Linked DNA regions of Homo sapiens: all the other regions are linked to region 2. The links come from fine-mapping of genetic effects on plasma protein levels. Region 2 holds a variant in brackets. A gene starts in each other region. All regions are shown on their forward strands. Distances are between the middles of the regions.

Region 1 (8,175 bases), not on the chromosome of region 2:
AGGCATGATGGTGTGTACCTGTAATCCCAGCTACTCCGGAGGCTGAGGTACAAGAGTTGCTTGAACTCAGGAGGCTGAGGTTACAGTGAGCCTAGACCACACCACTGCACTCCAGCCTGGCGACAGAGTGAGACTCAGTCTCAAAAAAAAAAAAAAAAAAGTGTGGTGTGGCAAGCCCAAGGCTGGGCCCCAAACTGCTGTGCTTAGTACATCAACTGAACAGCATGGGGCTTTTACAAGGGCAGCGTGCAAGTGGCTGTTGGGTTTTCCCATCCTGTTGTCACCTGTCGTCACCAGGATGGGGAGCAGGTGGTGGTGACCACATGGAGCAGTCACACCTGAGAGACGAAGGAAGCCGTGGCGTGAATCCAGCCACCCTTTTCTCCCTCAGCCTTTTTTTTTTTTTTTTTAGACAGGGTCTTGCTCTGTTGCCCAGGTTGGAGTGCAGTGGCACAACTGTAGCTTACTCGGCCTCCAGCTCCTGGGCTAAAGTGATCCTCTCTCTTCAGCCTCTCCAGTAGCTGGGACTATGCTGGCTAATTTTTTTTTTTTTAATTTTTTGTAGGGACCAGGTCTTGCTATATTGTCCAGGCTGGTCTTGAACTCCTGGGCTCAAATGATCCTCCCACATTGGCCTCCCAAAGTGCCGGGATTACAGGAGTAAGCCACCATGCCTGGCCTCCCTCAGCTTTCTAAACCGCCCTCTGGATGCATTTCTTTCCCTTCTTCCCTCCTTTCTTTCCCTTCTTCCCTCCTGATCACCACTTTGTCCTTGCTCTGTGGACAGATACTCCCTGCTGCAGGGAGCTCCTCCCCGCCCCCCGGCCCCTGCCCCATTCTCTCCTCCCCTGAACTGGCACCCTTCTCCTCTCCCAGGGCCAAACCCACCACCCCACTTAGGGAGGGCAGCTAGCCAAACAGACCTGCCTCTGCCCTCCCTGGGGATCCTGAGCTGAGAGCTGGGGGGTGGCCTCAGTTTTAGGGGACCAGGCAGATAAGGGGTAGCAATGAAGGAAGTACTTTCCAGGGAGAGGTGGGCAGCTCTGTGCTGCCCATCCCCTCAGGGAAGAAGGAAAGAGGGTTGGAATACAGCTCGTCAGACTGGATTTCCCACTCCAGGGCTACAGAGGAAAAAAGACAACAGTAATCAGGTGTCTGAAAGAAAAGTGTCCCTTAAGGAACCTGCATGCACATAGCATCCCTTAGCAGCAGCTAATTTTTGTTGCCTGCTGACTTCATGCCAAGCACTGTGTTAAGTGTTTTATATGTGTTTACTATCCTCAGGAACTTTATGAGATGACTATAAAATCTCCATTTTACTGATGAGGATACAAAAACTTAGAGGTCAGGTTAGTAATTCAAGGTCACATAGAAATATTCAAACTCGGCTGGGCATAGTGGCTCATGCTTATTATCCCAGCACTTTGGGAGGCCAAGGTAAGTGGATTGCTTGAGCCCAGGAGTTCAAGACCAGCCTGGGCTGGTAGAGACAAGAAACCTTGTCTCTACAAAAATACACAAATTATCCAGCACATGCCAGTAATCCCAGCTACTTGGGAGGCTGAGGTGGGAGGATAGCTTGAGCCGGGGAGGCCGAGGTTGCAGTGAGCCGTGATCATACCAGCACTCCAGCCTGAGTGACAGAGCGAGACCTTGTCTCAAAAAATAATAATAATACAATTTTAAAATGAAGTCATAGTCACAGTTACCAGCAGTTAGGACATGGACACATTTTTCTATTTTTTTAATAAAAAAATAAATATTTAAACTTAGTCCTGACCAATCCACCATGCCTCATTGCACATTCCCTATCTACACATAATGATGAGTTTTGTTTTGTTTTGTTTTGTTTTGTTTTTTGACGGAGTCCTGCTCTGTCACCCAGGCTGGAGTGCAGTGGCACAATCTCAGCTCACTGCAACCTCCACCTCCTGGGTTCAAGCGATTCTCCAGCCTCAATCTCCCGAGTAGCTGGGATTACAGGTGCATGCCACCATGCCCAGCTAATTTTTGCATTTTTTTAGTAGAGATGAGGTTTTGCCATGTTAGCCAGGCTGATCTTGAACCCCTGACCTCAGGTGATCCACCCACCCTGGCCTCCCAGAGTGCTGAGATTACAGGTGAGAGCCACCACACCTGGTCAATGATGAGTTTTAAGAGGCCATCTGGTGGGGCATGGTGGCTCATGCCTGTAATCCCAGCACTTTGGGAGGCCGAGTGAGCCAGGCGGATCACGAGATCAGGAGTTCGAGACCAGCCGGGCCAGCATGGTGAAACCCCGTCTCTACTAAAAATACAAAAATTAGTCGGGCATGGTGGTGCACGCCTGTAGTCCCAGCTACTCGGGAGGCTGAAGCAGGAGAATTACTTGAACCCAGGAGGCAGAGGTTGCAGTGAGCTGAAATCGTGCCATTGCACTCCAGCCTCGGCAACAGAGCGAGAGTCAATCTCAAAAAAAAAAAAAAAAAGGAGGTCTTCTGACCCAGGGCGGTACAGAGAAGAAGAAAGGGGTCCTATGTAGGTCCTATGTAGGACCCCCTACATAGGAATAGTACCCCAACTCATAGGCCCTATAGAAAGGCTTGTGTCTGCAAGCTCCTCAGCTGCCAGAAATGACCTCTTTCCTCTCTTCTCCCATGAATGTCCCCTCCCTGAAGCACCATCTCGGCCTATAGAAAACCAAGGAGGAGAAAGGGAAGACTGGCCTCAGCCTTTAGTGCCCATCTTTTTGGGAGAACAGGTGGCCCCTTTCTGGCCTTTCTCCCAGGGCCCCCATTCTGGATAGTTCACGGCAGCAGCAGGTAAGAGGAGCTTGCCAGCTGCTCCTCTCTCCACCCCAGGGCGGCTTGCCTCATTCTCTCCTCTACCCACCTCCTCTCCCAGAATCCAGGCCACCAGATGGCCCAAGCAGGCTGTGTTTATTTGGGGCCATGGAAACCTGCAGCTTCCTTTTCCTATTGCCTTGGGTCAGGTGCAGAGCTGGAGCCCAGCCTCAGAGCAATGATGTCATGGAAAGGTTCTGACTTTATTACTCATAACCCCTTAGCCCCCGACCTGAGTGAATGCCTGGTTTTGCTCCTCTGAGCAGCTTATTCCAGTTGCCATAGAGATGCGTCTATTCCCTTTGAGGTCTTGGGACTAAGTCAAACAGCGCGGGACCCAGGAGACTCTCCTCCCAACCCGAGATAGAGCCCGAGATATGTCAATTGTCACCCCTTTCTAGTCTGAGCTTATAAAGCCAGTGCTTAGAAAGTGGTTTATTCCTTCTTAAAGATTTGCTGTAGCCATAATGCGGAGATGGTAAAAGCTTGGTGTGATGACAATCTCCTGTTTCAATCAGCCAGCATCCCCGGGGGCACATTTTTCTAGATAATTATGCTTGTTCCTAAAAATAGAACTCTTCATTAAGAAACAATCGCTAGCATTACTAATAATTATGAACATTTATTTAGCTTTGTTTCCATTTACCACATAGCCTCTCAACACAGTAACTTAACTAAGGTTTAGCTGTTTTCAAACACTGCTTGCTCTACTGTGAACCTTTTTCAGAATTGGAACTTGTCTGTAGTTCATCCCTTACCAGCGCTATGAAAGGGTTCTAGTTAGCTGGCAGTTCTCTGAATTCTCTCCCTACCTCCCGAGGGACCCCCTCTCTCCTGGCTGGAAGAAAGCATCATCTTGCTCCATAAAGCTGAAGGGCGGGGGACGATGTTCCAGGTTTTGCAAACATTTCTTTCGGTGGCCTGCCTTCTCCTCCCATCTGGTATTTGTCCTGCAGAGCTGCTGGGTATAAGCCAGTACACACACGTGCTCAGCGGGGAATTTGCTCATAGGCTGCCTTGTAAAAAGAGCCTGGCGTTCCTAAAACTCAGCTCTACCAGAACCCAACTTTCAAAAGTACATTCCTACAGAATTCATTTTATCAGTACTCATGGGGTGCCCACGATGTGCCATGTTCTGGGTGCTGGGGATATACCAGTGAGCCGGTGCCCTCCTGGAGCTCACATTCCGGCTAGGAGACAGCAATTAGACAATTAGGACTGAGTGATTTTTGTAAAGGAAGAGAAAAAAGATAAATTAGAGCAGAGTAAAGGGGCTGGGAAGCGCGGGGCGGGAGATGCCCCAGGCTGGCCGGGCAGGCCTCGCTGCTGTTTGAATTGGGCAGTGGGCGGTCCAGGCGGAGGGCACGGACTCTGAAAGGAGAGAAGTGGTGTTTCTGGGGGCCACAAGATCGGGGCACTCTTCCGGTAGCAGCTCGCTCTCTGGCCACCGTCTTCCCCAGCCAACCAGGCCTCCCGGAGGCGGCCGGCCAGAAAGCATCGGCGGGACCCCAGTTTGCCGCCTCCCCTCGGCGGGACCTAGAAACTGCGCGGAACCAAAGCTCGAGGGCGGCTCGAGTTTGCGGACCGCGGGGAGGAAGCGCCCGCCGGAAGCAGTCGCAAGACCTGAGCATGGCGGCCACCAGGTGCCTGCGCTGGGGCCTGAGCCGAGCCGGAGTCTGGCTGCTCCCACCGCCCGCACGGTGCCCACGCCGGGCGCTGCACAAGCAGAAAGACGGCACTGAGTTCAAGAGCATCTACAGCCTGGACAAGCTCTACCCCGAATCTCAGGGCTCGGACACCGCCTGGAGGGTCCCGGTGAGCCGGGAAGGACTGGACGGAAGGGGCGTTTTGTCAGGCTGCTGGGTGACGTTAGGAACCCCAGGCCCATTGGCCGGATGTGGAGCTACGTCGGGGGGCTACGTGATGGTCGCCGCGGGAGGGGGCTGGCTGTCTGCGCTAACCTGGCCGGGAGTGGGGTGCTCGCTGTAGCGCGAGATGTGCAGGAGCCCGGAAGGCCGGCTGGGTATGCTTCTTTCAAGGCTGCCAGCTTTTCTACGTTCGTGTCCTTGGCCCTCAAGACCAAATTCCAGTCCCAAGGGGAAATACGGGCATTCTGGCCCTCCAAGGCGGACAATAAAGGCAAGAGGCTGCCAAGTTGTTTGCTACCCTTTGGGACGTTACAGTGTCCATTGTCTCTAGTAACCCCAGGACGCGCGAATAAAACAGCTTCTCTGTCGTTCCTTCAGGATGCATTTATTTAGCCAGCTGTGTGCAGGCATTGAATCAAGCCCCGGAGCAAGAGAGATAAGACCCACCCAAACCCATTGAGCTTCCACTTACAGGACTGGAAAAGAATATCCATTCATTTGTTCATTAATTCACTCACTCACTCAACAAAAGCTGTGCTAGGCTAGGGGATGGAGTAGCAAACAAAATTGAAATTCTAAAGCTTGTGGAGCTTATGTTCTAGTGGAGGGAGACAAGCAGTAAGTAAATGACTAATATAGAATGTGTGAGGTAGTACTTTGCAGAAAATAAAGCCAAGAAGGAAGAAGTAGTGCCAGAGGTAGGAAGTAGGGTTGCAATTTTAAGTAGGATTGTCTAGGAACGCTGTCAATGAGGTGGCATTTGAATAACGACCTGGAAGAAGCCAGACAGCAAGTCATGAGAATAGGGGGCGGATGAGCATCCTAGGCAGAGGGAAGAGAAAGTGCAATAACCTGAAGGCAGTAGCAATCCCCAGGTGTGGCTCAGCAGGGGTCAGGAGACAAAGCCAAAGAGAGGGATGGCTGGGGAAAGGCCTGTTACTAGGACTTAATGGCCTCCAGCCTTTCCTCTGAACGCAAGGGAGACCTATTGGAGAGCTTGAAGCAGAATGGAATTATCTTAGTTTTACAAGGATCACTCAGAGAGCCTTACAGAGAACAGATAGAGGATGCCAAGATCAGGGAGACAAGTAAGGAGATTGCAATGTAGGGCAAGAGATGATAAGCAGGGTGGAAGCAGTAGGAGTCATGAGAATTGGTCAGATCCTAGACGTATTTTGGAAAGAAAGCCTGCAAGATTTGCTAATTGATTGGATGTGAGAAGTGAGAATAAAAGAGGAATTGAAGTCTGGGGCCTTTTTTTTTTTTTTTTTTTTTTTTGAGACGGAGTCTCACTCTGTCGCCCAGGCTGGAGTGCAGTGATGCAATCTCTGTTCACTGCAAGCTCCGCCTCCCGGGTTCACGCCATTCTCCTGCCTCAGTCTCCTGAGTAGCTGGGACTACAGGCGCCCACCACTACAACCGGCTAATTTTTTTTTTTTTTTTTTTTAGTAGAGAGGGGGTTTCACCGTATTAGCCAGGTTGGTCTTGATCACGGGCGTGAGCCACCGCGCCAGGCTTTTTTTTTTTTTTTTTTTTGAGACAGGGTCTTACTCTGTCATCCAGGCTGGAGTGCAGTGGCGTGATCTCAGCCCACTGCAACCTCCGCCTCCTGGGTTCAAGTGATTCTTGTGCCTCAGCCTCCCGAGTAGCTGGGATTACAGGCATGCACCACCATGCCCGACTCATATTTTTGCATTTTTAGTAGAGACAGGGTTTTCACCATGTTGGCCAGGCTAGTCTCAAACTCCTGACCTCAAATGATCTGCTCGCCTCAGCCTCCCAAAGTGCTGGGATTACAGGCGTGAGCCACCATGCCCAGCCAAGTCTGGGGCCTTGAGCAGTGAAAGGATTGAGTTGCTATTAACTGAGATGAGAGAGTGGCAATAGCATTCATTTGTTCATTCATTCAATAAAATGTTTATTGTATATCTACTGTGTCTACTACTACTTGAGTCTAGCATATACAGCCATGATAAACAAAATACAGGATCTCTCTCCTTCATGGAGCTTAATTCTAATGGAAGGAGCAGACAGTAAACAAATAGGGAAAATATCAGGTAGTGAGAAGTAGTGTAATGAATAGGCCAGGGTGCTGCAACAAAGTGCTGAGGCTACCTCAGATTATTAGTAAGGGAAGTCCTCTGAGGCGGCTTAAGGTTTGGGTCCATTAGACATCTGAGAAGAGACGTTGAGTAGCAGTTGGGTATATGGGTGTGGAGTTGAGAAGAAAGGTTTGAGTTTGAGCCAGAAAGTTGGGTGTCAAAAACAGGCTATTTTCTGGCCAGGCGCAGTGGCTCATGCCTATAATCCCAGCACTTTGAGAGGCCAAGGGTAGATCACTTGAGGTCAGGAGTTCGAGACCAGCCTGGCCAACATGGCAAAACCCCGTCTCTACTAAAAATACAAAAATTAGTCGGGCGTGGTGGCACACGCCTGTAGTCCCAGCTACTCAGGAGGCTGAGGCAGGAGAATCGCTTGAACCCAGGAGGCAGAGGTTGCAGTGAGCCGAGATTGCACCACTGCACTCCAACCTGGGCGACAACCTTAAGACTCCATCTCAAAACAAAAACGAAAAACTGGCTATTTTCATCAGCATAGATGAAGTATTCTAGAGAAAGAAAGAGGAGAGAGAGAGAAGTATTTCAAGGGCATGTCAGTGTTTAAAAGTTGCTAAGAGCTAGCAAAGGAGAGTGAGAAAGAGTCCTAGGAAGGTAAGAGGAAAATTTCAGAAGGAACAGAAGGAACATGCTTCAGGAAGGAGGGTGTGGCCCATGATCTTCAGTGCTGCAGACAGGTGGAGTAGGATAAGGGTTTCATCCCCAAATAATTCTTTTTCTTTTTCTTTTTTCTTTTTTTCTGAGACAAAGTCTCGTTAGCTGTCACCCAGGCTGGAGTGCAGTGTCCCAGGCAGGAGTGCAGTGTCCTGATCTCAGCTCACTGCAACCTCCATCTCCTGGGTTCAAGCAATCCTGCCTCAGCCTCCCCCAGTAGCTAGGATTACAGGTGTGTGCCACCATGCCTAGCTAATTTTGTATTTTTAGTAGAGGGGAGGTTTCACCATGTTGTCCAGGCTGGTCTCCAACTCCTGACTTGAAGTGATCCACCCGTCTCGGCCTCCCAAAGTGCTGGGATTACGGCGTGAGCCACTGCACCCGGCCAACTCCCAAATAATTCTAAGATAAAAGAAATGAAGACAGGCTGGGCGTGGTGGCTCACGCCTGTAATCTTAGCACTTTGGGAGGCCAAGGCGGGCAGCTCTCTTGAGGTCAGGAGCTCGAAACCAGTCTGGCCAACATGGTGAAACCCCATCTCTACTAAAAATACAAAAAAAAAAAACAACAATAGCTAGGCATGGTGGCATGCGCCTGTAATCCCAGCTACTCAGGAGGCTGAGGCAGGAGAATCACTTGAACCCAAGAGGCGGAGGTTGCAGTGAGCTGAGATCGCACTATTGTACTCCAGCCTGGGCTACAGAGCGAGACTCC
Region 2 (8,203 bases):
AGAGCTGCAGAGATGCCCCCGCCTGGCCAGCTGCCCGCACAGAGGCCCACCTGTAGAGAGGGTTCAAGGCAATGATGTCCCGGATGGTCTTCACGATCTCTGCAGTCAGGGCCTGCCAAGTATGGGGCAGGGTCGCTGGGGCCCAGCAGTGCTCCAGCAGGGGGTGGGCTGGGTGGGAGCATGGCCCTGGGAGCCCCACCCACCAGCTCCATCAACTCCCTCCCCTCCGCCAACTGGCCCTGGCCACGGACGGCCTGGGAGATGGAGGAGTGCAGTCCCTGGTGGACTCACCAGTCCCAGGGACACAGGACCAAGAGAGTCAAAACTAAAACCAAACCCTGTCTCCTTACCCCTCAGAGCCTTGTCCTTAGGATAAGCTATCTCAGGGGAAAAAAAGAGACTGTGTTTTCTTTCCTCCATTTTTTAAGAGACCAAGTCTTGGCCGGGCGTGGTGGCTCACGCCTGTAATCCAAGCACTTTGGGAGGCCGAGGCGGGTGGATCATGAGGTCAGGAGATCGAGACCCTCCTGGCTAACACAGTGAAACCCCGTCTCTACCAAAAAATACAAAAATTAGGCGGGCGTGATGGCGGGCGCCTGTAGTCCCAGCTACTCGGGAGGCTGAGGCAGGAGAATGGCGTGAACCCAGGAGATGGAGCTTGCAGTGAGCCGAGATCGCGCCACTGCACTCCAACCTGGGCGAAAGAGCGAGACTCTGTCTCAAAAAAAAAAAAAAAAAAAAAAGACCAAGTCTTGCTCTGTCACCCAGGCTGGCGTGCAGGGCTGCAATCATGACTCACTGCAGCCTTGAATTCTTGGGCTCAAGCGATCCTCCCCGCTCATTTTCCGGAGTAGCTGGGACCACGGGCATAAGCAACTGCACCTGCCTACAACCAAATTTTAATCACCTGGTCTTGGCCGGGCGCGGTGGCTCACACCTGTAACACCAACACTTTGGGAGGCAGAGTTAGGTGGGTCACTTGAGGCCAGGAGCTCAAGACCAGCCTGGCCAACACGGTGAAACCCCATCTCCACTAAAAATACCAAAAAAAAAAAAAAAATTAGCCAGGTACTTTGGTGGGTGACTGTAATCCCAGCTACTAAGGAGGCCGAGGCAGGAGAATCACTTGAACCCAGGAGGCGGAGGTTGCCATGAGCCAAGATTGCGCCAGTGCACTCCAGTCTGAGTGACAGGGTGAGACTCTGTCTCCAAAGAAACCGTAATCACCTGGTCTCTAGTCTTTGGCTTTGACGCTGAACTGTCTGAGCTGACCCTGGTAGAAGGCACCAGAACAGGCCCACTGGAGGTCCGGGGCACTTGCTTTAAGAATAAGTTCAGCTGGGCACAGTGGCTCACGCCTGTAACCCCAGCACTTTGGGATGCTAAGGCGGGCGGATCACGAGGTCAGGAGATCCAGACCATCCTGGCTAACACGGTGAAACCCCGTCTCTACTAAAAAATACACAAAAAATTAGCCGGGTGTGGTGGCGGGCACCTGTAGTCCCAGCTACTGGGGAGGCTGAGGCAGGAGAATGGTGTGAACCCGGGAGGTGGAGCTTGCGGTGAGCCGAGATCACGCCACTGCACTCCAGCCTGGGCGACAGAGGCTCCATCTCAAAAAAAAAAAAAAAAAAAAAAAAAAAGAACAAGTTCGCTGCCCCTAAGGGGTCTTGCCAGTTCTAATCACATTTGTAAGTTTGGTCGCTGTCTTCCCCCTGTTGCAAGATTCTCACAGGGAATGCCCCAATGCTGAGCTGCCCAGGACAGTGTAGCCGCTGGTGGCTGTCTGAATTTTTTTTTTTTTTTTTTGAGACAGAGTTTTGCTCTTGTTGCCCAGGCTGGAATGCAATAGTGCAATCTCGGCTCACCGCAACCTCTGCCTCCCAGGTTCAAGCAATTCTCCCGCCTCAGTAATCCCGAGTAGCTGGGATTACAGGCATAAGCCACCACACCTGGCTAATTTTTTTTTGTATTTTTAGTAGACACGGGGTTTCTCCATGTTGGTCAGGCTGGTCTCAAACTCCTGACCTCAGGTGATCCGCCCACCTCGGCCTCCCAAAGTGCTGGGATTACAGGCGTGAGCCCACCGTGCCCGGCCTGAATTTTTTTATTTTAATTTTTAGATACAGGGTCTCACTCTGTTGCCCAGGCTGGAGTGCAGTGATGCGATCACAGCTCACTGCAGCCTCAATCTCCTGGGCTCAAGCGATCCTCCCACAGGTTAGACCACTGGTGTGTGCGACCATGCCCAGGGATTTTATTTTTTTTGTGGAGACAGGGGTCTCAATATTGCCCAGGCTGGTTTTGAACTCCAGGGCTCAAGTGATCCTCCTTCCTTGGCCTCCAAAAGTGTTGGGATGACAGGCATGAGACACTGTACCCAGCCAATAAAATGTTCCATTCTGTTCCTTGGCCACAGCAGCTCTACTTCAAGTGCTCAATACTCACAGGTGGCCGGGCACAGTGGCTCACGACTATAATCCCAGCATTTTGGGAGGCTGAGGTGGGCGGATCACCCGAGGTCAGGAGTTTGAGACTAGCCCGGCCAACATGGTAAAACCTCGTCTCTACTAAAAATACAAAAATTAGCCGTGTGTGGTGGCACGTGCCTGCAATCCCAGTTACTTGGGAGGCTGAGGCATGAGAATCACTTGAACCTGGGAGGTGGAAATTGCAGTGAGCTGAGATCGTTCCATTGCACTCCAGCCTGGGTTGACAGAGCCAGACTCTGTCTCAAAAAAAGAAAGAAAAAAAAAAACCTCGCAGGGGTAGTGGGGCAGGATAGAAGTGCTGACCTCAAGAACCCAGGTGGGCCTGTGGACAGGACTTTCCACCCCTGCCAGCGCCCACAGCAGACATCACCAGTTGCTCACAGCACTTCCCCCTAGGCCCTGCAGCAGCCTGGGGAAGAGGCTGATGACACCAGGCACACAGGTAAGGAGCTGACACGCTTCAGGCCTTTGGTTAGCTTCGCTGACTGTCCCTACAGCGGGAGGGCAGGTGGCACCGCCAAGAGCCTGCCCACCTCGGAAGCTGACTCCTTGTGCCACCAGGCAGGCAGGACGGCCTAGGTTGGGGGATCAGGGTGGCCAACAGGCTGTTTCCTGTCCTGCAACCACTGGTACCAACCTCCCAGGCTTGGTGGGAAGAAGCCAGGGCTGGAAGGTGTCTTGGTAACCGCTGGAGGCTTTGGCACAGGGGACACGGGCTGGGGCTGGACCTGGGTTCCAACCCTGTCTCCTTCCTGAGCAGCTACAGGCTCCAGCGAATTTCCTGTGCCTCTCCCATCCCAGAGTCTTCCGAAGACCTCTGGGAGGAAAAGCACCCTCTATGTTCCATTAGAATTGAGTTCCAGACAGGCCAGACCCTTCCTAAGGGGCTCAGGGTGGGAGATGACTCTTCGGAGAGGCCGCAGGAACGGCTCAAGGGAGCCCGTGGGGGAGGCAGCTGTGGCCGCCCTGCGTGACGCACGGACTCACTTTCACCTCCTCCGTGACCTGGAAGTCCTCGTGGACAACGTTCTCTACCTCCACCATGAGCACCTCAGCCGGGAGCTCAGGGGTGGGCTCCATCGCCAGCTCCGCCGGGTGCCTGGCGCTCAGCTCGTCCTCCGCCTCCTTCTTGCCC[C/T]GCTTTGACTTCCTGCGGGGCTTGTGCTTGTTCTCCGCCTCCGGCTCCTCGGGCTCCACCTCCAGCTGTCTGCTGATATGGACTCTGACACGGGAGCAAGGCAGGTGTGAATCAGCCGCTGAGGCTGGGAGCTGGACCCGGCTGAGGCCTCCCTGGTGGCACAGGTGGTCCAAGGGTCCCGCTGAGCCCAGACCTCTGGAGCCACAGGGTGGCTACAGGGTCCTCAAGCTGGAGACGTGAGCCGCTTTCTCGGGGCCTCCCAACCAGTGTCCCCTCCACCCCTTAGACTCCAGCCAGATTCAGGCATTCCCTGCATCCCACGCCAATGCATCACTGTCCCCATCCTAAGTATCGTGGATAAGCTGCAGTGACAAGCCCCAGGGCCTCCTGTCGAAAACGGTGTCAGCCTGGCCGGGCACAGGCTGGTCTCCAAGACTCTGTGCCCTGGACTCAGCTCATAGCAGCTCCTTCCTGTTGTTCAGGTCTCGATTTCAAGGACACCATCGCAAAGACTGTCCCCAAGCACTTCACAAAAGCTACCCACCTCCACCTCTCACGCTGTCTGCGTCTCCCCTCAGAGCACCTGGCACCACCTGAACTCAGGGTCTCGCTCTGTTGCCCAGGCTGGAGTGCAGTGGTGTGATCATAGCTCACTGCAGCCTTTACCTCCTGGGCTCAAGCAATCCTCCTGCCTCAGCCTCCCAAGTAGCTGGGACTACAGGAACACGCCGTCACATCTAACTTTTTATTATTTTTTATAGAAACAGGGTCTTGCTGTGTTGCCCAGGCTGGTCTCAAACTCCTGGGCTTAAGCGATCCTCCCACCTCAGCCTCTTGCGTAGCTGTGACCACAGGCATGAGCCACCACATCCAGCTAATTTTTCTACATTTTTTGCAGAGATGGGATCTCGCTACGTTGCCCAGGCTGGACTCAAACTCCGGGCTCAAGCGATCCAATTGCCTTGACATCCCAAAGTGCTGGAATTCCAGGCAGGAGTCACCATGCCTGGCCCTGCAGCTCACCCCTTTCTGAGACAGGAGGGGTCCAGAGGTGACATGTCTCACTCTCACCCCCAGCTCTGGCCTCAGTGCTAGTGAGAAAGCCGCTGGGCTGACGGACAGGGCAGAGGCTGATGCTGGGGCATAAGGCATCCTGGCTGGTCTCCCGCGTGGTACTCTGCCCCCACCTCCCACTGTCCCCCGCCAGCCACCCACCTTCTGTGTCCCATGACGATCATGCGCAGCTTGTCCCCAAGGTCCTGCATCTCATGGATCTGGGCAAACGTCCCCGTGTGGTAGATTTCATCCAGGCTCTCGACCACATCCGACTCATTGCTGTGGGAGAAGAGCACAGAGGAATGTTGGAACATGGCTTTCATGCTAGGCAGGATGTCTCTGGCTGAGATGGAGGAGGGAGAGAAAAGAAACGCCCCTACCAAATGCTACTGAAAACCAAGAGCGGCCTCCTTGGCTCCCGCAGGAGCTCCAGAGCCTAGGGGAGCTTCTGCCAGGCCAGGGCTGCCCCAGTGGTCACAGGACCGGGTGGGTGGCTCCTCGCTAAGTCAGCCACAAAGACATGGTCCAGGTGGGACTTTGATGAGTCTCTTCTATGCTATCACAGAGCCTGCTTCGAATGCATGCATGGAACTCTTTTTTTCTTGAGATGGAGTTTCGCTCTTGTTGCCCAGGCTGGAGAGCAATGGTGTAATCTCAGCTCACTGCAACCTCCACTTACTAGGTTCAACCGATTCTCCTTCCTCAGCCTCCTGAGTAGCTGGGATTACAGGTACCTGCCACCACGCCTGGCTAATGTTTTGTATTTTTAGTAAAGACGAGGTTTCATCATGTCAGCCAGACTGCTTTGGAACTCCTGACCTCAGGTGATCCACATGCCTCAGCCTCCCAAAGTGCTGGGATTACAGGTGTGCGACCCCACGCCCGGCCCATGGAACTCATTTCTACATGGAGCCACATCTCCGAGCAGCTAGCTCGACTTTCAGGTAGCCTCATGGAGCATTTCATCACTAAGAGTCCCTGAAGTTAATTTCCCCCGTATCTTAACAATGCATGAAGTTTAGTACTACAAGCTGAGTTCTCAGCCCAGGCTGAAAAGGTAGCCTGCGTGGCTTCTGGCCTTTATTCTGGAGGTCTTCCCTGGTTTCCTCGGGGTCAGGGGTCAAAGGTGCAAAGTACAGAGTAGGACTTGTGGTGAGCTGGACTCTAGGGCACCGTCAACAAGGGAATGAAGGAAAAATCACACTTACCTGTCATCTCTCTTTAGAAAGACGCCGACATAAGGCTGGGCGAGACGAACTTTCCTTCTCAGCAGCTCAACCAACTTCTTATTTTTAACCTAGCATGACAATGACCCCAAAGTGAAATGCAGAGTAGATTTTTTTTTTGAGACAGAGTCTCATTCTGTTGCCCTGGCTGGAATGTAATGGCGTGATCTCAGCTCACTGCAACCTCCACCCCCACTGAGTTCAAGGGATTCTCCTGCCTCAGCCTCCTGAGTAGCTGGGATTACAGGCATGCACCACCACACCTGGCTAATTTTTTTATTTTTAGTAGAGATGGGGTTTCACCATATTGGCCAGGTTGGTCTCGAACTCCTGACCTCAGGTGATCCACCCACCTCAGCCTCCCAAAATGCCGGGATTATAGGCGTGAGCCACCAAACGCAGCACAGGGTAGCTTTTCTTTTTTTTTTTTTTTTCTGAGACGGAGTCTCGCTCTGTCACCCAGGCTGGAGTGCAGTGGCATGATCTCAGCTCACTGCAACCTCCGCCTCCCGGGATCAAGCAATTCTCTGCCTCAGCCTCCTGAGTAGCTGGGATTACAGGCGCCCGCCACCAGGTCCGGCTGATTGTTTTGTATTTTTAGTAGAGATGGGGTTTCACCATCTTGGCCAGGATGGTCTTTAACTCCTGACCTCGTGATCCACCCACCTCAGCCTCCCAAAGTGCTGGGATTATAGGCGTAAACTACCACGCCCGGCCTCCCAGGGTAGCTTTTGTAGCTGACATTTTTTGACAGCAGAGCCGCTCTAACGCTGTGTAGATTATTCTCTGGGGACATGCTGATCCGCATCCTGGATACTAATCAACATGGTTTGGGAACGCCTAAACAAAAAAAAAAAAAAAAAAAAAAAAGTGCTGGAGGCCAGGAGGCTGTGGTGGTGAATACAGTGAGCAGAACTGACCAGCTGGATTCTTCTTAGCGGTTTCCCCACTCCCAAAGGAAATTCAAAGTAGACGAATGGTCAGAACCCAGAAATTGATTTAACATCCAGCTTCAAAGGGGATGTCCAGGGCAAACTGTCTTGGTTTGAAAATCAAAACCATTCTGCTTTTATTAATGTCAGAATAAACATAAGTAATTTAAATGTGACCCACTCCAGAGATTGATAACTTCCTTTTTTTTTTTTTTTTAATAAAGTTTCAGGCTGGGCGCGGTGGCTCACGCCTGTAATCCCAGCACTTTGGGAGGCCGAGGCGGGCAGATCACAAGGTCAGGAGATCGAGACCATCCTGGCTAACACGGTGAAACCCCGTCTCTACTAAAAATACAAAAATTAGCCGGGCGTGGTGGCGGGCACCTGTAGTCCCAGCTACTCGGGAGGCTGAGGCAGGAGAATGGCGTGAACCCGGGAGGCGGAGCATGCAGTGAGCCAAGATCACGCCACTGCACTCCAGCCTGGGCGACAGAGTGAGACTCTGTCTCATAAAAAAAAAAAAAAAAAAAAAAAAAAAAAAAAAAAAGAAAGTTTCACTCTGCCACCCAGGCTGGAGTGCACTGGTGCAATCTCGGCTCACTGCAACCTCCACCTCCCAGGTTCAAGCGATTCTTCCAACTCATCCTACCACATAGCTGGGGTTACAAGCACACGCCACTGCACTCGCTAATTTTTGTATTATTAGTAGAGACGGAGTTTCGCCATGAGCCACCATGCCTGGTTCCTCCAATTTTCATTGACAGTTACTTCCTTATCACATCATATGCTGTTCATTAATGATCAAGACCCCCAGGATCACAGCACATTCTCAACGGCAGGTTCAGGGCTAATGATGTCTTCTAAGAAGCATTTGAAGGCGCAAGGAGCTCACCTGATTTCTTTCAAGCCTTTGTTAATTCACTGGACAGACCCTGATTAAAGGTAATGGCCTGGCTAGCCTGGTAATGGTAGCTCATGCCTGTAATCCCAGCACTTTGCGGGGCTGAGGTGGGAGGATCGCTTGAGCCCAGGAGTTTGAGACCAGCCTGGGTAACACAGTGAGACCCCATCTCTATTTTCTTTTTGAAGTTTTTAATTCTTTATTATATAATAAAGTTAAAATATACATATATATATATATATATATATATATATATATATATATATAGTAATGGCCCTCAAACTTTTGCAGGCACCAGGATGACCTGAAGGACTTTAAGCAGCTCACTGCTGGGCCCCACCCTTGGAGTTTTTGATTCAGTTCTAGGGTGGGTCCAAAAATCTGCATTTCAAACAAAAGAGCATCACATGATGCCGATGCTGCTGGTCCACAACCATCCTTTGAGAGCCAGTGTTTTGACT
Region 3 (8,193 bases), 7.2 Mb after region 2:
GCCCTATGGTCTGTGCCTGCTGGGGCTCCCCGCGCCCACCTGTCTGGGTCTTGGGGGGCTGGCTGGGCACAGGCAGGCATGGTGACGGGTGCCTGGAAGGGGGAGAGGAGTCTGTGAGTCCCTGCAGATTGAGGCTTCCGGTGTCTCCTCCCCCAGTGTGTCATTTCCAGGCAGTGGACCCCAGCCCAACGTTACAAGGACTGCTTCTCCCCGGCCCCCACCATCATCACCACAGTCTGTTTTGGCTATACTTCCCCCCCCACCAGCCTTGTAATTGGCTAATTACTGGAGATGAATGTTGGTAAACAGAAGCCTTCTTCTCTTCTGCCATCTGCTTCTCCATTATTTGCCCATTGTACACCCCCCTTTTCCTCCCACTGAAGCCCCAGTTAGTCAGCAGGGCCTAGAGTCCCTGTCCCCTTTTGAGTACAGCCAAGTGGGGGATTCCCCAGCTCTTAAGTATTGGGGGAGGAACCAGGGGACCCAGAGAGGCACACCTTGAGAGGACGCAGATCTCTTCAGGGGTACTGCCAGGTAGCAGGCTTTATTGGGAAGGGACAAAGCCTCAGGAGCTGGGTGCCCCAGAGGCTGCTGGGTCTTGAGCCACAGCTGCAGCCAATGCAGCAGCTCGCGCCTCCTTCTTCCGTTTCTGTTTTTCCTCCTTGAGGCGCTTGCGCTCCTTCTTCTCTAGGTCCTGGAGCAGCTCCTGGAAGCGGGCACTCCTTGGGTCCACCTGGTAGCCCAGGAGCTCCTGGGCCTCAGCCTGCAGTCGGGCCCTCCTCTCCTTGTCAGCCTGGGCCTTCTCCCAGTTCTCCCGCTGCTGCTGCTGCCAGTTCACAATCATCTGTGGCATCTTGGCCATGCACTCTGCGATGTGCTGCTCCCTGCAGGGGAGGGAGAGTGGGCTGTGACACTGGCACTCAGCCAGGGCAGAGCCCACCCACCCATATCTCACCCATAGGCCTTTGCCCACGAGCCTGCCTCCTCAACTCCCCCAGTAGATTAACTGTCAGGAAAAGCCCTTGACAAGTGAAGAAACAGGAAGAGATGATGAGAAAGTTACCTGTGCATGAATTTGATCACAAGGGCATGTCAAGCCCCAGTAAACCCCAGGTGCCAAAGCCAAATCAGCATTTCACTGAGCTGCCTACTGAGCAAGCCAAGTGCCACTCCCATGGATAATTTCACACCTTTATTTCATAGACATTGCTGAGCACTTCCTGTACAGAGGCCAGGCCCAATTCTAGGCACAGGAGTGAAAGCAAGAAAGACATTTCCCACCAATCCTTGAGTTTGTAGCTACCAGTCACAGCCCCATTTTTTTCTTTTAAGTTCAGGGGTACAAGTGCAGGTTTGTTACGTAGGTAAACTTGTGTCATGGGGTTTTTTTGTACAGATTTATTTCATCACTCAGGTATTAAACCTAGTACCTAGAGGTCATTTTTCCTGATCCTCTCCCTCCACCCTCCAAAAAGCCCTAGTGTGTGTTGCTCCCCTGTGTGTCCATGTGTTCTCATCATTTAGCTCCCACTTACAAGTGAGAACACGTTGTATTTGGTTTTCTGTTCCTGTGTTAGTTTGCTAGGGATGATAGCCTCCAGCTCCCGTCGTGTCCCTGCAAAGGACATGATCTCGTTCTTTTTTATGACAGCCTCATTTAAGGATTAGAAAAGTAAAAGAATTAAGCCCTATAATGGTCATCTGGCTGAGGAGGGGCAGAAACAGGAGTCCCTGCTCCATGATTCCCTGCCTGGGTGATCAGACGCATGACTTCACTTCACCAAGCCTCAGTTTCCTCATCTCTAAAATTAGGGCAATCCCTTCTTCCTCTTAAGGCTATTAGGAAAACAAGAAGATTAAACACCAGGAACACACTTGACCTACCCCCTTCACGCTCCAGGATGTGGCATTATCTATAAGAGATGCCCCTGGTCTGGCCCGACGCGGTGGCTCACGCCTGTAATCCTAGCACTTTGGGAGGCCGAGGCAGATGGATCACCTGAGGTCAGGAGTTTGAGACCAGCCTGGCCAATATGGCGAAACCCCATCTCTACTAAAAATACAAAAAATGAGCCGGGTGTGGTGGTGGGCGCTTGTAATCCCAGCTACTCGGGAGGCTGAAGCAGGAGAATCTCTTGATCCTGGGAGGCAGAGGTTGCAGTGAGCTGAGATTGCACTCCAGCCTGGGCAACAAGAGCAAAACTCTGCCTCAAAACAACAACAACAACAACAACAAAAAGATGCCCCTGGTCCTTCAGACCTGCCTCTGTATCTGACCTCTGCCCTCTTGGTTCCAGGACCCATCACCTTCCTGCCCTCACCTTTTCCCCAGCCACACTGGCTTCCTGGCTGTTCTTTAAGGCATATCGTATCTCAGGGCATTTGCCCCAGCTGTTCCCTTTACCAGAAACTTTCTACCCAAGAGATCGCCCCATAGCTAAGTCTGGTTATTCAGGTCTTTGCTTAAACATCACCTCCTCAGAGAGGCCTGAGGCTTCCCAAACCAAAGCTGCCCTCAGGCACACACTCTTCACTCTTTTACCTTCCTACTAGTCGGCTGTCACCATTGGTATTATCTTGCCTGTCAGCTGTCGCCATCTGATATTAAGGGCCCTTTTGGGGCCTGCCTCGGCCTCCCAAATAACTGGGATTACAGGCACGAGCCACCGCCCCCGGCCTGGGACAGGGTCTTGCACACGGTATGCGCTCAGTAAAGACTTGGTGGTGATGGCCGGACGTGATGGCTCACACCTGTAATCCCGGCACTTTGGGAGGCTGAGGCAGGTGGATCACTTGAAGTAAGGAGTTTGAGACCAGCCTGGCCAACATGGTGGAACCCCGTCTCTACTAAAACTACAAAAATTTGCCGGGCGTGGTGGTGCACGCCTGTAATCCCAGCTACACCGGAGGCTAAGGCGGGAGAATCGCTTGAACCGGGGAGGCGGAGGTTGCAGTGAGCCAAGATCTTGCGACTGCACTCCAGCCTGGGCAACAGAGCGAGACTCTTGTCTCCAAAAAACAAACAAACAAACAAACAAAACTTGCTGATGAATGACTAAATGGACGTTATTCTGAGTTTGTTTTGCGGCCAGGTGAGCGTATACATAAATCTACAACATGCAGATGCTGCGACGTGACCCCGAAGGGGTAGGCACGGTTTGGGGCCCAGTTCGCCCACGGGGCACAGAGGGCAGCCCCGCGTCTGCCTGCACGCACGCACCTCTCCCGACGCTTCTGCTCTTCGGCCAGCTGCTTCACCCGCAGCGACTCCTGCATGGTCGCCAGGCTCGGGTACCATTCGCGTTCTTCGGCCTCCAGCTCCCGCAGCTGCTCCGGCGACGGCCATAACGAACCGGGGACCACCCCGGAGGCGGCGCCGTAACGCGCGAACTGCTTAGCCGCGTAGCGCGGTCCCAGCTGCCACCGCGGGGTCAGGAGGTCCTCGGGGTCTGGCCACCGGGGTCCCGGCCTGCGGCGCGGGGGCGGCCGCGCCCGGTAGCCACGGGAACCCGGGGCCAGGGTCGCCGCCACACCTAGTAGGCTGCGTGCCTGTCGCACGGACGCCGCCATCTTGGCTGTGCGGGGTCCTCACAGGCCCGCCGGGCTGTCCATGCCCGGTGCCTGAGCGCGAGGCCCGGTGTGGGCCAGGGCAGGGCGAGGGGTGTCCCTGCTGCCTCAGTTCGGGGGAGGGCGGCGAAGGGGATAGTATGGGTTTTATACGTTTCCAAGTATAACTTTAAATTTTAGTTAAGCAGTTACTGATTAAAGTCATTTTTAATTTTCACTTTTTTTCTTCTCCTTTCTGCACACTGACACTTAAAAATACATATTTTTGTCGGGCGCGGTGGCTCACGCCTGTAATCTCAGCACTTTGGGAGGCCGAGGCGGGCGGATCACCTGAGGTCGCGAGTTCGAGACCAGTCTTTTTTTTTTTTTTTTTTCGAGACAGAGTCTCGCTCTGTCGCCCAGGCTGGAGGGTAACGGCGTGATCTCGGGTCACTGTAACCTCCGCCTTCCGGGAGGAGAGGAGAAACCCCGTCTCTACTAAAAATACAAAATTAGCCGGGCATGGTGGCGCATGCCTGTAGTCCCAGCTCCGCGGGAGGCTGAGGCAGGAGAATCGCTTGAACCCGGGAGGCGGAGGTTGGGGTGGGCCGAGATCGTGCCATTGCATTCCAGCCTGGGTAACAAGAGCGAAACTCCGTCTAAAAAATTAATAAATAAAAATAAATACATACATGCATACACACACACACACATATACATATATATATACGCTCACCTGGCTACAAATATATATTTGTGTATTTTTTTCTAAGTGTTCAGTGTTCTTTGGGTAAAAATTGTATTTTTGTTTTTTGCATATCAGAAACCATACTGTTTTATTCATCCATGTGTCTTCTGTGCACACAGTAGCCCTCCAATGAATAATCTGAAATCATGTTGAATGAACACATTGAAAAATCAAAAATAAGAGGCTGTGGCAGGGCCACTGATATGGTTTGGCTCTGTGTCCCCAACCAAATCTCATCCTGAATTATAATCCCCATGTGTCCAGGGAGGGACCTGTAATCCCCACATGTCGGGGAAGGGAGGTGGTTGGATCACGGGGGTGGTTTCCCCCATGCTATTCTTTTTTTTTTTTTTTTGCCTTCAAAAAGTTTATTTTATTTTATTTTATTATTATTATACTTTAAGTTTTAGGGTACTTGTGCACAACGTGCAGGTTTGTTACATATGTATACATGTGCCATGTTGGTGTGCTGCACCCATTAACTCGTCATTTAGCATTAGGTATATCTCCTAATGCTATCCCTCCCCCCTCCCCCCACCCCACAACAGTCCCCGGTGTGTGATGTTCCCTTTCCTGTGTCCATGTGGTCTCATTGTTCACTTCCCACCTATGAGTGAGAACATGCGGTGTTTGGTTTTTTGTCCTTGCGATAGTTTGCTGAGAATGATGGTTTCCAGTTTCATCCATGTCCCTACAAAGGACACGAACTCATCATTTTTTATGGCTGCGTAAAAATTATATTTTTAACTTTACTTTTATACATTTAAACTAGCATTTATTAGGCTGGGCTTGGTGGCTCACGCCTGTAATCCCAGTACTTTGGGAGGCTGAAGCGGGCGGATCACTTGAGGTCAGGAGTTGGAGACCAGCCTGACCAACATGGCAAAACCTTGTCTCTACTAAAAATACAAAAATTACCTGGGCGTGGTGGTGGGCGCCTGTAATCCCAACTACTCAGGAGGCTGAGGCAGGAGAATCGCTTGAACCTGGGAGGTGGAGGTTGCAATGAGCTGAGATCGTGCCATTGCACTCTACCCAGGGTGACAGAGTGAGACTCTGTCTGAACAAACAAACAGACAAAAAGCCCACTAGCATTTATTATTTTTTTAATGTAAATGTGGCTGAACGCGGTGGTTCACACCTGTAATCCCAGCACTTTGGGAGGCTGAGGCAGGTATCACTGAGGTCAGGAGTTCGAGACCAGCCTGGCCAACATGGTGAAACCCCGTCTTTACTAAAAATACAAAAATTGGCTGGGTGCGGTGGTGCACACCTGTAATCCCAACTACTCGAGAAGCTAAGGCAGGAGAATCGCTTGAACCCGGGAGGCGGAGGTTGCAGTGAGCTGAGATTACACCACTGCTCTCCAGCCTGGGCAACAGATCGAGACTCTGTCTCAAAATAAATAAATAAATAAATAAATAATTCTGTCACATGCTGTGACATGGATGAACCTTGAGGACATTAGGCTAAGTGAAAGAAGCCAGTCACAAAAGGACAAATATTGTATGATTCCACTTATATGAGGTAACTAGAGTAGTCAAATTCATAGAGACAGAAAGTAGATTAGGAGTTCCAGGGGTTGGGGGTGGAGGAGTGGGAGTTATTGCTTATAATGTATAATATATTTTATATTGTAAAATATACAAAATAAATAAAACGAATTTGTGTTTTGTTTTGTTTTGAGTCAGAGTCTCGCTCTGTCTCCCAGGTGAGAGTACAGTGATGCAATCTTGGCTCACTGCAACCTCTGCCTCCCAGATTCAAGGGATTTTCGAGCCTCTGCCTCCTAAGTAGCTGGGACCACAGGCGCAAGCCACCAAGCCTGGCTGATTTTCATATTTTACTAGAGACGGGGTTTCACCACGTTGGTAAGGCTGGTCTCAAACTCCTGACCTTAAGTGATCTGCCCACTTCAGCCTCCCAAAGTGCTAGGATTACAGGTGTGAGCCACCATGACTGGCCACGTTTTTTTTGTTTTTTTTTTTTTGTTTGTTTGTTTTTGAGATGGAGTTTAGCTCTGTTGCCCAGGCTGGAGTGCAGTGGTGCGATCTCCGCTCACTGCAAGCTCCGCCTCCGGGGTTCACGCCATTCTCCTGCCTCAGCCTCCCGAGTAGCTGGGACTACAGGCGCCCGCCACCACGCCCGGCTAATTTTTTTGCATTTTTAGTAGAGAGGGGGTTTCACCGTGTTAGCCAGGATGGTCTCGATCGCCTGACCTTGTGATCCACCCGCCTCGGCCTCCCAAAGTGCTGGGATTACAGGCATGAGCCACCGCGCCTGGCCTGTTGTTTTTGTTTTTAATCACACACGCACACCTTCTCTACCCCCGCAAAAAATAACTGCAGTTTTCTCAAGACATGAATGTTCATAGCAACACCACATATATATGTCATTACCAAGCTGGAAATAGCTCACACCCAATGTCCATCTGAAGTAGAATGGACACCTAAATTATGCTGTTTCAGCCAATGGAATACTACACAGGAATGAAAGAGCAAATATTACATCTTCTCACAGAAGATGGATGATGCTTATAAGCATAATGTGCAACAAAGGAAGAGGACCTATATGATTGCTTTTTAAATTTTATTTTTTTGAGACAGGGTATTGCTCTGTTGCCCAGGCTAGAGTGCCCTGGCTCGGTCATAGCTCACTGCAGCCTTGAATTCCTGGGCTCAAGCAATCCTCCCGCCTCAGTCTCTTCAGTAGCAAGACTATAGGCATGAACCGCTACTCCCACCTACATTTTAAATTTTTTTGTAGAGACGGGGTTTCTCTATGTTACCCAGGTTGGTCTTGAACTCCTGGCTCACCTCCCCTCCCCTCCCCTCCTTTCTTGACAGGGTCTCACTGTTGCCCAGGCTGGAGTACACTGGCATATCACTGCAGCCTCAATCTCCTGGTCTCAAGTGGTCCTCCCACCTCGGGCTCCTAAGTAGCTGGAACTTCAGGCACTCACCATCAAGCCTGGCTAATTTTTGTATTATTTGTAGAGATAGAGTCTCAATATGTTGCCCAGGGTGGTCCTGAATTCTGGGACCCAAGTTATCCTCCCACCTTGGCCTCCCAAAATGTTGGAATTACAGGTATGAGCTACCATGCCTGACCTCAGAATTTTTTCATCTTGCAAACCTGTAACTCTATACACTCACTCCCCAGTTTCCCTTTCGCCCAGTCCCTGGCAGTCACTATTCCTTTTTTTTTTTTTTTTTTGAGACGGATGGAGTCTCGCTCCGTTGCCCAGGCTGGAGTGCAGTGGCGCGATCTCGGCTCACTGCAAGCTCCGCCTCCCGGGTTCACGCCATTCTCCTGCCTCAGCCTCCCGAGTAGCTGGGACTCCAGGCACCCGCCACCACACCCGGCTAATTTGTTTGTATTTTTGGTAGAGACAGGGTTTCACCGTGTTAGCCAGGATGGTCTCGATCCCCTGACCTCGCGATCTGCCCGTCTCGGCCTCCCAAAGTGCTGGGATTACAGGCGTGAGCCACCGCGCCCGGCCTGGCAGTCACTATTCTACCTTGTTTCTATGAATTTGACTACTCTAGGTACCTCATATAAGTCGAATCATACGGTACTTGTCCTTTTGTAACTGGCTTATTTTTTATTTTGAGACAGAGTCTTGCTCTGTTGTCCAGGCTGAAGTGCAGTGGCACAATTATTATAACTGGCTGCAGAATCGACCTCCTGGACTCAAGTGATACTCCCACCTCAGCCTCTCAAGTAGCTGAAACTACAGGTGCTCACCTGGCTAATTTTTTTTTTTTTTTTTTTTTTGAGACAGGGTTTCGCTCTGTCGCCCAAGCTAGAGTGCAGGGGCGCCATCTCGGCTCACTACAAGCTCCGCCGCCCGGGTTCACGCCATTCTTCTGCCTCAGCCTCCCGAGTAGCTGGGACTA

Which allele goes with the higher level. Positions count from the first base shown, and alleles are read on the strand shown. Strength reflects both the effect of a copy and how common the allele is.
With allele C in place of T in region 2, the plasma level of the protein whose gene starts at base 4,435 in region 1 is lower (moderate association).
As copies of C replace T in region 2, the plasma level of the protein whose gene starts at base 3,581 in region 3 goes down (weak association).

What was found. PIP is the posterior inclusion probability: the model's chance that the variant is causal. The UK Biobank Pharma Proteomics Project read protein levels with antibody pairs (Olink). The fine-mapping took linkage between variants from a reference panel, not from the people measured, so its PIPs are less certain.
Region 1: MRPL58 starts here. The variant in region 2 is fine-mapped to the plasma level of the MRPL58 protein (UK Biobank, PIP above 0.99).
Region 3: GADD45GIP1 starts here. The variant in region 2 is fine-mapped to the plasma level of the GADD45GIP1 protein (UK Biobank, PIP above 0.99).

Annotation. Positions count from the first base shown.
Region 1 is chr17:75,008,236-75,016,410 of GRCh38, forward strand. MRPL58 (mitochondrial ribosomal protein L58) reads left to right here and starts at 4,435. Exons shown (of 6, transcript NM_001545.3): 1 at 4,435-4,637. The coding sequence starts at 4,452. RefSeq lists enhancers at 4,063-4,212, 4,079-4,762, 4,303-4,612, 4,663-4,742, 4,763-5,445 and a silencer at 4,228-4,410.
Region 2 is chr19:5,708,292-5,716,494 of GRCh38, forward strand. It overlaps LONP1 (lon peptidase 1, mitochondrial), which reads right to left. Exons shown (of 18, transcript NM_004793.4): 2 at 5,892-5,980; 3 at 4,843-4,962; 4 at 3,480-3,711; 5 at 51-112. Among named protein-coding and RNA genes, the nearest start is that of LONP1, 7.8 kb to the right of the region's middle. The variant C/T (reference allele first, on the strand shown) is at 3,628.
Region 3 is chr19:12,953,643-12,961,835 of GRCh38, forward strand. GADD45GIP1 (GADD45G interacting protein 1) reads right to left here and starts at 3,581. Exons shown (of 2, transcript NM_052850.4): 1 at 3,221-3,581; 2 at 1-884. The coding sequence starts at 3,570. The coding sequence ends at 566. RefSeq lists enhancers at 1-64, 2,908-2,957, 3,057-3,929 and a silencer at 3,358-3,527.